Linked DNA regions of Homo sapiens. The protein of the gene in region 1 purifies or fractionates together with the protein of each later gene. This does not show direct contact. Each region holds a gene or a part of one and is shown in the gene's direction. Other genes may lie near its edges. The genes, in order: RNPC3 and USP33.

Region 1 (4,036 bases):
AGAGATTGAGTTTGTAGGTTTTATAATATAGGGGTTGAGAGAGAATAGTTCAGGATATTTAGATTGAGGATTGAGTTATTTGGGTTGTTATATTAGCTGACATGAGGATCCAGAGGATGTTTGCAAAGGCATAGGATGAATTCACTTGTCATCTGTTAACTTGGAGGGGTCATTGGGCTACTTTTATGGAAATATTTAAAAATATTAATGAGAGCTGAGGCAAGGTGAAGAATGGAAAGATTCTTCAACCATGTGAATAGATATGTTTGCCCAAAGGATAATAAGCTAGGAGAGAAGAATGGGAAGGAGCAGTTAAAGTAGGAGAACTAGAAAGGAAATTATCACTGATGCAAAGAGAAGTGTGTTTTAAGAAGATGAAATCCTGTGATGATGCAAAATGAGGAATGAACACATCTATTAAAGTCTTTTTGCCATGAAACAATAGAAATGACCCAAATTCTCATCGGTAAAAGGAAGGGAAGCCTTAAATCACATTATATCCATATACTGGACTGCAACTGTCTGAGAATGATGTCAAATGGTATGTGTTAATATGGAATGATAGCCCAGATAGAGTACATGAATAAAGTTGTGAAACATTATATATGATGTAACCTCAGATTTTTTGAAACTAATAGTATACATGTTAGCATATACACAGAAAAAATATGGCAGAACTATACACCAAAATGTTAAAAACATCTTTCTCTGAGAGTAGGATTACAGAGGGCTTTCATATTATATTAATATGTACTTTTATAATGGTAGGTAATTTTTTTTCAGAAAAAAAGTATTTTTAAAAATATATCATAATACATTGTAAATAAAGTATGGTAATGAAAAACGCATTGTTTTAGGGTCAAGAATAACTTGGAGGAGAGGACATGGAGCCAGTCATTGTCTTTGGAAATGTCTGTAGTGAAAGGAAGCAGTAAGAGGTTAACGGCAATATTGATAGGGCTTTTAGGCTAGAGAGCATTTGGCCTAATTGGAAAGTGATAGATTAAGAAAACAAAGGGAGAAATGTTCAAGAATAGAGTAAGTAGCCGAGTCAGGTAGGAGGAGTTAACATTAAAAATGAAAAACCATAAATCTTTGAAAATAAGAACATATGTGATACCCATTTGAGAAGAAGAAAGTTGGAGTAAGTCAGGTTAGATGACCTTCATTTCAGATAATCAAGGCTTCACTGATAATAAAGAGGTCTAAAGTTCATTTAGGGTCTTGAAAATTATTGAAACATTTTAAAATTAACTTTGTATGATGATGTAAGGCAGGGATCCTCAAACCCTGGGACACAGACTGGTACCCAGCCACGGCCTGGTACCTAACCACCACCTGTTAGAACCTGGGCCGCACAGCAGGAGGTGACTGGCAGGCTGAGGAAGCTTTATCTCTATTCAGGGCGACTCCGCCTGGCTGCCTGAGCTCCACCTCCAGTCAGATCAGCAGTGCCTTGGCCCCTGTTGTGAACTGCACATGCAAGGGATCTAGGTTGCGCTCTCAATGAGAATCTGACTAATGCCTTATGATCCGAGATGAATCAGTTTCATCTCGAAACCATCTTCTCCCCACCCCCCACCCCAGCCTGTGGAAAAATTGTCTTGCACAAAACCGGTCTCTGGTTAAGGCTTGTACTTTCATGTGTTCAAAAATATTAAGTACCTACTATGTGCTAGATGCTGATTTAGGTTTTGGGATTATATGTGAAGACAAAGATGATTATAGTTCATATTCTCAAAAGGGGAGACAGACAATAAATAATAAACTTTAATATTTTAGAAGATGATAAATGCTATGGAAAAAGGACAAGTAGAGCAATAAGATCAGGAGTGCTAAGTGGGGAGAGGTCAGGCTGTAGTTAGGGTTATATTTGAACAACAATTTGAAGGATGCGAAGGGAGTTAGCTAATGAAATTTCTGGGAGAAGTACCTTTGAATTAGAGGAACAGCTGGAACAGGGGCTCTAGGATGTGACCATGCCTGTCACGTTGTTCAAGGAAGCCACTGTGACTGGAGCAGACATAGTGGGAGTGATCTGTGGGAGCAGGAGTGGGAGTGATCATTGGATTTGAAGTCAGAGAAGTCATAGAATCTATATTATGTAGATTATAGTAAGGAACTTAGATTGCTGTCAGTAAAATAGGGAGCCATTGGAGCAAGGGGGTGACCTTGGTATTTCAAAGAATTGCTTTTGCTGTTGTGACTAGACTGAAGGGAGGGAAAGGTAGAAACAGGGAAATCCGTTAAAATATTGTGGTAATTCAGTCCAGAATTGATGGTTGCCTTGACCACAATGGTAGTGGTTAGCGGTGATTAGATTCTTTATATATTTTGAAGGTAGAAGCAAGGATTTCTTACTGTATTTATTCCAGTAGGTTTTGGGGGAACAGGTGGTGTTTAGTTACATGAATAAGTTCTTTAGTCGTGATTTCTGAGATTTTGATGTACCTGTCACCCAAGCAATATACACTGTGCCCATTGTGAAGTCTTTTATCCCTCACCCCCACTCCCAACACTTTCTCCTGAGTCCTCAAAGTCCATTGTATCATTCTTATGCCTTTGGGTCCTCATAGCTTAGCTCCTACTTAGGAGTGAGAACATACGATGTTTGGTTTTTGATTCCTGAGTTACTTCACTTAGAATAATGGTCTCCCATTCCATCTAGGTTGCTGCAAATGCCATTATTTTGTTCCTTTTTATGACTGAGTAGTATTCCATGTTATATATATATATACCATAATTTCTTTATCCACTCATTGATTGATGGGCATTTGGGCTGGTTCCGTATTTTTGCAATTGCAAATTGTGCTGCTATAAACGTGCATGTGCAACTGTCTTTTTTGTATAATGACTTATTGTCCTCTGGGTAGATACTCAGTAGTGGGATTGCTGGATGAAATGGTAGGTCTACTTTTAGTTCTTTAAGGAATCTCCACACTATTTTTCATACTTACTGTACTAGTTTACATTACCACCAGCAGTGTGAAAGTCACTTTCACCACATATTCTGCCAACATCTATTATGTTTTGATTTTTTCATTATGACCATTATTGCAGGAGTAAGGAGGTATTGCCTCATGATTTTGGTTTGCATTTCCATGATCATTAGTGATGTTGAGCAGTTTTTCATGTTTGTTGGCCATTTGTGTATCTTATTTTGAGAATTGTCTATTCATGTCCTTAGCCCATGGGATTGTTTTTTTTCTTGCTGATTTGTTTGGATTCCTTGTAGATTCTGGACATTAGTGGTTTTTTTGGATGTATAGATTGCAAATATTTTCTCCCGCTATGGGTTGTCTGTTTGTTGATTGTTTCTTTTGCTGTGCAGAAGCTTTTTAGTTTAATTAAGTCCCATCTATTTATCTTTGTTTTTGTTGCATTTGCTTTTGGGTTCTTGGTCATGACGTCTTTGCCTAAGCCAATGTCTAGAAGGGTTTTTCTGATGTTATCTTCTAGAATTTTTATGGTTTCAGGTCTTAGATTTAAGTCCTTGATCCATCTTGAGTTGATTTTTGTATAAGGTGAGAGATGAGGATCCAGTTTCATTCTTCTACATGCGACTTGCCAATTATCCCAGCACCATTTGTTGAATAAGGTGTCTTTTCCCTACTTTATGTTTTTGTTTGCTTTCTGGAAGATCAGTTTCCTGTAAGTATTTGGGTTTATTTCTGTGTTCTCTATTCTGTTCCATTGGTCTATGTGCCTATTTTTATACCAGTACCATGCTGTTTTGATGACTATGGCCTTATGGTATAGGCAAACAGGATTTCTTAATGACTTGGATATGGAATGTAGGAAAGAAGCATTAAGGATGATTACAAGATTTTTGACCTGAATAATTGGAAGAATGGAGTTGCTATCAACTGAAATAGAGATGGCTCCTGGTGGAGCACATTTGGGGCTGGGGGAAAGATTAAGTGAAATGTTGAATTTGAAATGTTTGTTAGATATCTATGGGGCGCTATCCATTATTTGAATATGTGTTCCTTGACTTCAGGACAGAAGTCTGTGCTGAAATTATAAATTAGTGAAT
Region 2 (3,500 bases), about 26 Mb from region 1:
GTGACCATTATTTTTGTAGCCCTTATGGTTTCTCTGAAGTGCATCTTGAACTTGGACCTGAGATGACATGGGTGCAGGTGAGATGCTATAAAGCACAAGTGAGGAAGCAGGTAGAATCAGAGAAGGAGGAAAAAAGGTTAATAGTGGAAGGCCAACTGGAGGCTGCTTAAGCCTTTGGAGATTTTTGTATAACTGCCTCAGAGTTTTGTATAACTGCCCCAAATGAAGGGGAGCTGGGTGGTTTTCCATCTACAGTCAATCCTCACTGATAAAGATTGCCTTTATCTAAAAGGCTCCCAGAACTTCCCAGGTACACTGGTTAGGTAGGGCTTGGCAAGCTCCTGAGGTGCTGGAGAGCTGAGGAGAGAAGTAGTTGAGATGGGAAGTTGTCAGTGTGTTAACTGTGCATACCAGCTACAAGTAAACATTGAAGTGAGCTGAAAGGAGATGGTCCAGGTATCAACTCTGTGTCTTAACAGGCATTCTCATTGAATAATCCAGATGTGAAATAAAAGCCTCAATTTAGATAGAGACCTAGAAGAAATGTGAGATGAAATGTGGTTAAAAAAAAAAATGCCGAATTTAGAAACTGATAGAAAGTGAGGAGGGGAGCCAGGTGCTGTGGCTTGAGCCTGTAGTCTCAGTCACTTGGGAGGCTGAAACAGGAGATTTGCTTGAGCCCAGAAGTTCAAGTCCAACCTGGGCAATATAGAGAGCCTCCCATTTCAAAAAAAGTAAATGAAAAAAGTAAGGAGGGATCTAAGATGGTACTGAGGTTTAAAAGTTAGTTAACTTGTGAAAAAGAAGGGTTGACAGAAGGACACTGACTTTCAAATTAGTTTTTTAAGGAAAGTGAAAAAATTGCATAGTATTCAGGAGAGTGATGATAAGAGTGTTGATGACCAGTCATTCAAAAGGAAAGCAGGGTGGAGACTTGAACAATGCTGCCATCCCCACAAACTTATAATGTCTGGCCCATGCTGGATTATAAGCATTTGTTAAATTAATTTCTATCCCCCAGGGCTTATCACAGTCCTGAAATACAGTAATGTGGTGAAACTATAGGGCTGAATGTGACCTAAAATAAGACCATTTCCCACAGGTTTTAACTTTTATAAAATCCTAGAAGAGGAATTTCTTATATATTTTACTTTTTTGTGAAAGGGTCTCACTCTTGCCCAGCCTGGCGTGCAGTGGTGCGATCTTGGCTCACTGCAACCTCCACCTCCTGCGTTCAAGCAGTTCTCACCACTCAGCCTCTGGAGTAGCTGAGATTACAGGCGCACGCCACCATACCCAGCTAATTTTTGTATTTTTTGGTAGAAATGGGGGTTTCACCATGTTGGCCAGGCTGGTCTCAAACTCCTGACCTCAAGTGACCCTCCCACCTTGGATTCCCAAAGTGCTGGGATTACAGGCATGAGCTGCCATGTCTGGCTGGAATTTCTTATATTTTTTATGGAAGCATTACTGTGTTTAGATGAATCAGTTTTGATTAGTTTTAAAATCAATATTATAGTCTGGTAAACAATAAAAGAATTGATAATTTTTCTTATGGTGGTTCTCATTTGAATATGGTGATAGCATTTGTTTTCTCATATTCTTTCTTTCTTTTTTCTTTTTGCTCACAAGCTGAACTGAAGATTTAGGTTTTTCCATGTTTCTATGTGGTTTACATGAATATTTTTAATGACTGTTCCGTAATGCCAGTATATTAACTCTTCATCTTGCTCAAAAGTGAGACTTAGAGTGAAAATTATCATCAGCTTATTTGAGACTCTGTTAGAACTCTGTCATATTCATTAATTCATTTCTATTTCCTCTCTCTTCCAATATTTCTCAAAATTATTTCAACGAGATAAGGCTAGAATTGACCATATTTTGCCATTCATTATTGGACAGATTTTTAAAAATCTTTATAGGAAATGCTAATTAATATTTACAAATCTCATTTAGAGGATGTTATTTGGAATGAAGATTGCCAGATTGGAGCTATACTTTGGTATTATTAATAGTGGTAATGTTAAGAATAGATTGTAGAACACATAGGTTGTAGCCAGAGAACTCAGTTAGAAGACTGCGTATTTCTTTTAATAGCCTTAAGGCTCTCATTAATTAGACTCTTAAGGATCAATGAGACAGATTTTCTAGTAAAAGAGAAATAAAAAGATTAGCACTACATTTCTTTTTCTGTGTTGTGGTTTTGAATGAAAATTAAGAATGATTAGGTAAGTATTATAGGACTTTGTGGGATCTTCAAATCCTCACAGAGGTTTGAATGATTTTATTCTCAGAATATTTGTTTAAAGGGAAAGAAACAGTTATTTAAAATGCTTGTCAGCTGATTTCTTTTGTGAAAAGTCTCCCTGAGCACTTACTATGGATTGAGAATAAAATAAACTTTTCTGCTTGTTGTTGCACTCTTCATTGATAACTTCCTTCCATTCATCAGTTTTTTTGGCTTGCTTTTATTGGGTAGCAATTTTCTTCCATGATAAATATGGAAAGATAAGCCATAAGCTTATTCCTTCATTGTATTTTTGCTAAAGTGTAATATTTCATATGGTACTGCTGGACTAGTACTCGTGGAACCATAGTCTAGATTGAAACTGTTGAAAGACAAATCAATTTTTTTATAATCATAGAATCTTAATTCAATTCTGAGTTTTTAGTGCAAAGTGCTTGCTGTCCTTTGAAGCACCTCTGACAGTTACCCAACCTCTGTGTAACAATTATGGGGAACATGCTCCTTCCATGAAAGTTCATCTGTATTTGAACCGAAGTCTTCACCGTTGATTGAATATGCTGTTCTGACTTTCTCAAGTTGCACAGAAAAGAAAGGATCCCTTTGGTCATCATGTTCAATTGGAACATGTGTATCAAGTCCTGGCATCTTTTGCCTTCTGCTGTTTAAACATCCATGCTTTCAGTTCGTAATGGTTGACATTTACTGAGTACTTACTATATCACCCTCTTCTAAGTATTTTATATATACTAATATATAATATGTAATTATATATTAACGTATTATGTGTAATTATATAATTAGTTTAAAATATTATATATTAATCTTCTCCAAAACTCTAGAAAGTAGATATTTGTAATTAGATCAGTGTTTTAGATGAGGGAGCTAAGGCAAAGAGAAGAAACTTACCACTGGTCCCAAATCTAGGAGATAGTGGAGCCTTGCTCCAGAAACTTTACTCTTAGTACAGTGCTATCTTATAAGATACAGTTTTCAAATTATTTCTTTTAAGGTTTTCTATGAGAGGCACTCTTATTCTGTAGCTTTTAGTATTCTTCTTAAATAAAATACTGTATTCCAGATATAATCTACTTATTTTATGCGAACATTAAGATTGGCTATTATTTTTTCCCCTTTTCACCACTCTATTCAATTAAAAAATTATTATTTTTTTTTTGTAAAGATGGGGGGTGGGTATCACTCTGTTGCCTAGGCTGGTCTTGAACTCTTGGCCTCAAGCGATCCTCATGCCCCT

The links.
Region 2: the proteins of RNPC3 (region 1) and USP33 purify together in Homo sapiens (co-immunoprecipitation; one large-scale study listed by IntAct). This does not show direct contact.

What each region holds. Positions count from the first base shown.
Region 1 is NC_000001.11:103,528,486-103,532,521, forward strand, and holds part of RNPC3 (RNA-binding region-containing protein 3), read left to right. Parts: intron 1-4,036. UniProt on the Homo sapiens protein: Participates in pre-mRNA U12-dependent splicing, performed by the minor spliceosome which removes U12-type introns. U12-type introns comprises less than 1% of all non-coding sequences. Binds to the 3'-stem-loop of m(7)G-capped U12 snRNA.
Region 2 is NC_000001.11:77,753,353-77,756,852, reverse strand, and holds part of USP33 (ubiquitin carboxyl-terminal hydrolase 33), read left to right. Parts: intron 1-3,500. UniProt on the Homo sapiens protein: Deubiquitinating enzyme involved in various processes such as centrosome duplication, cellular migration and beta-2 adrenergic receptor/ADRB2 recycling.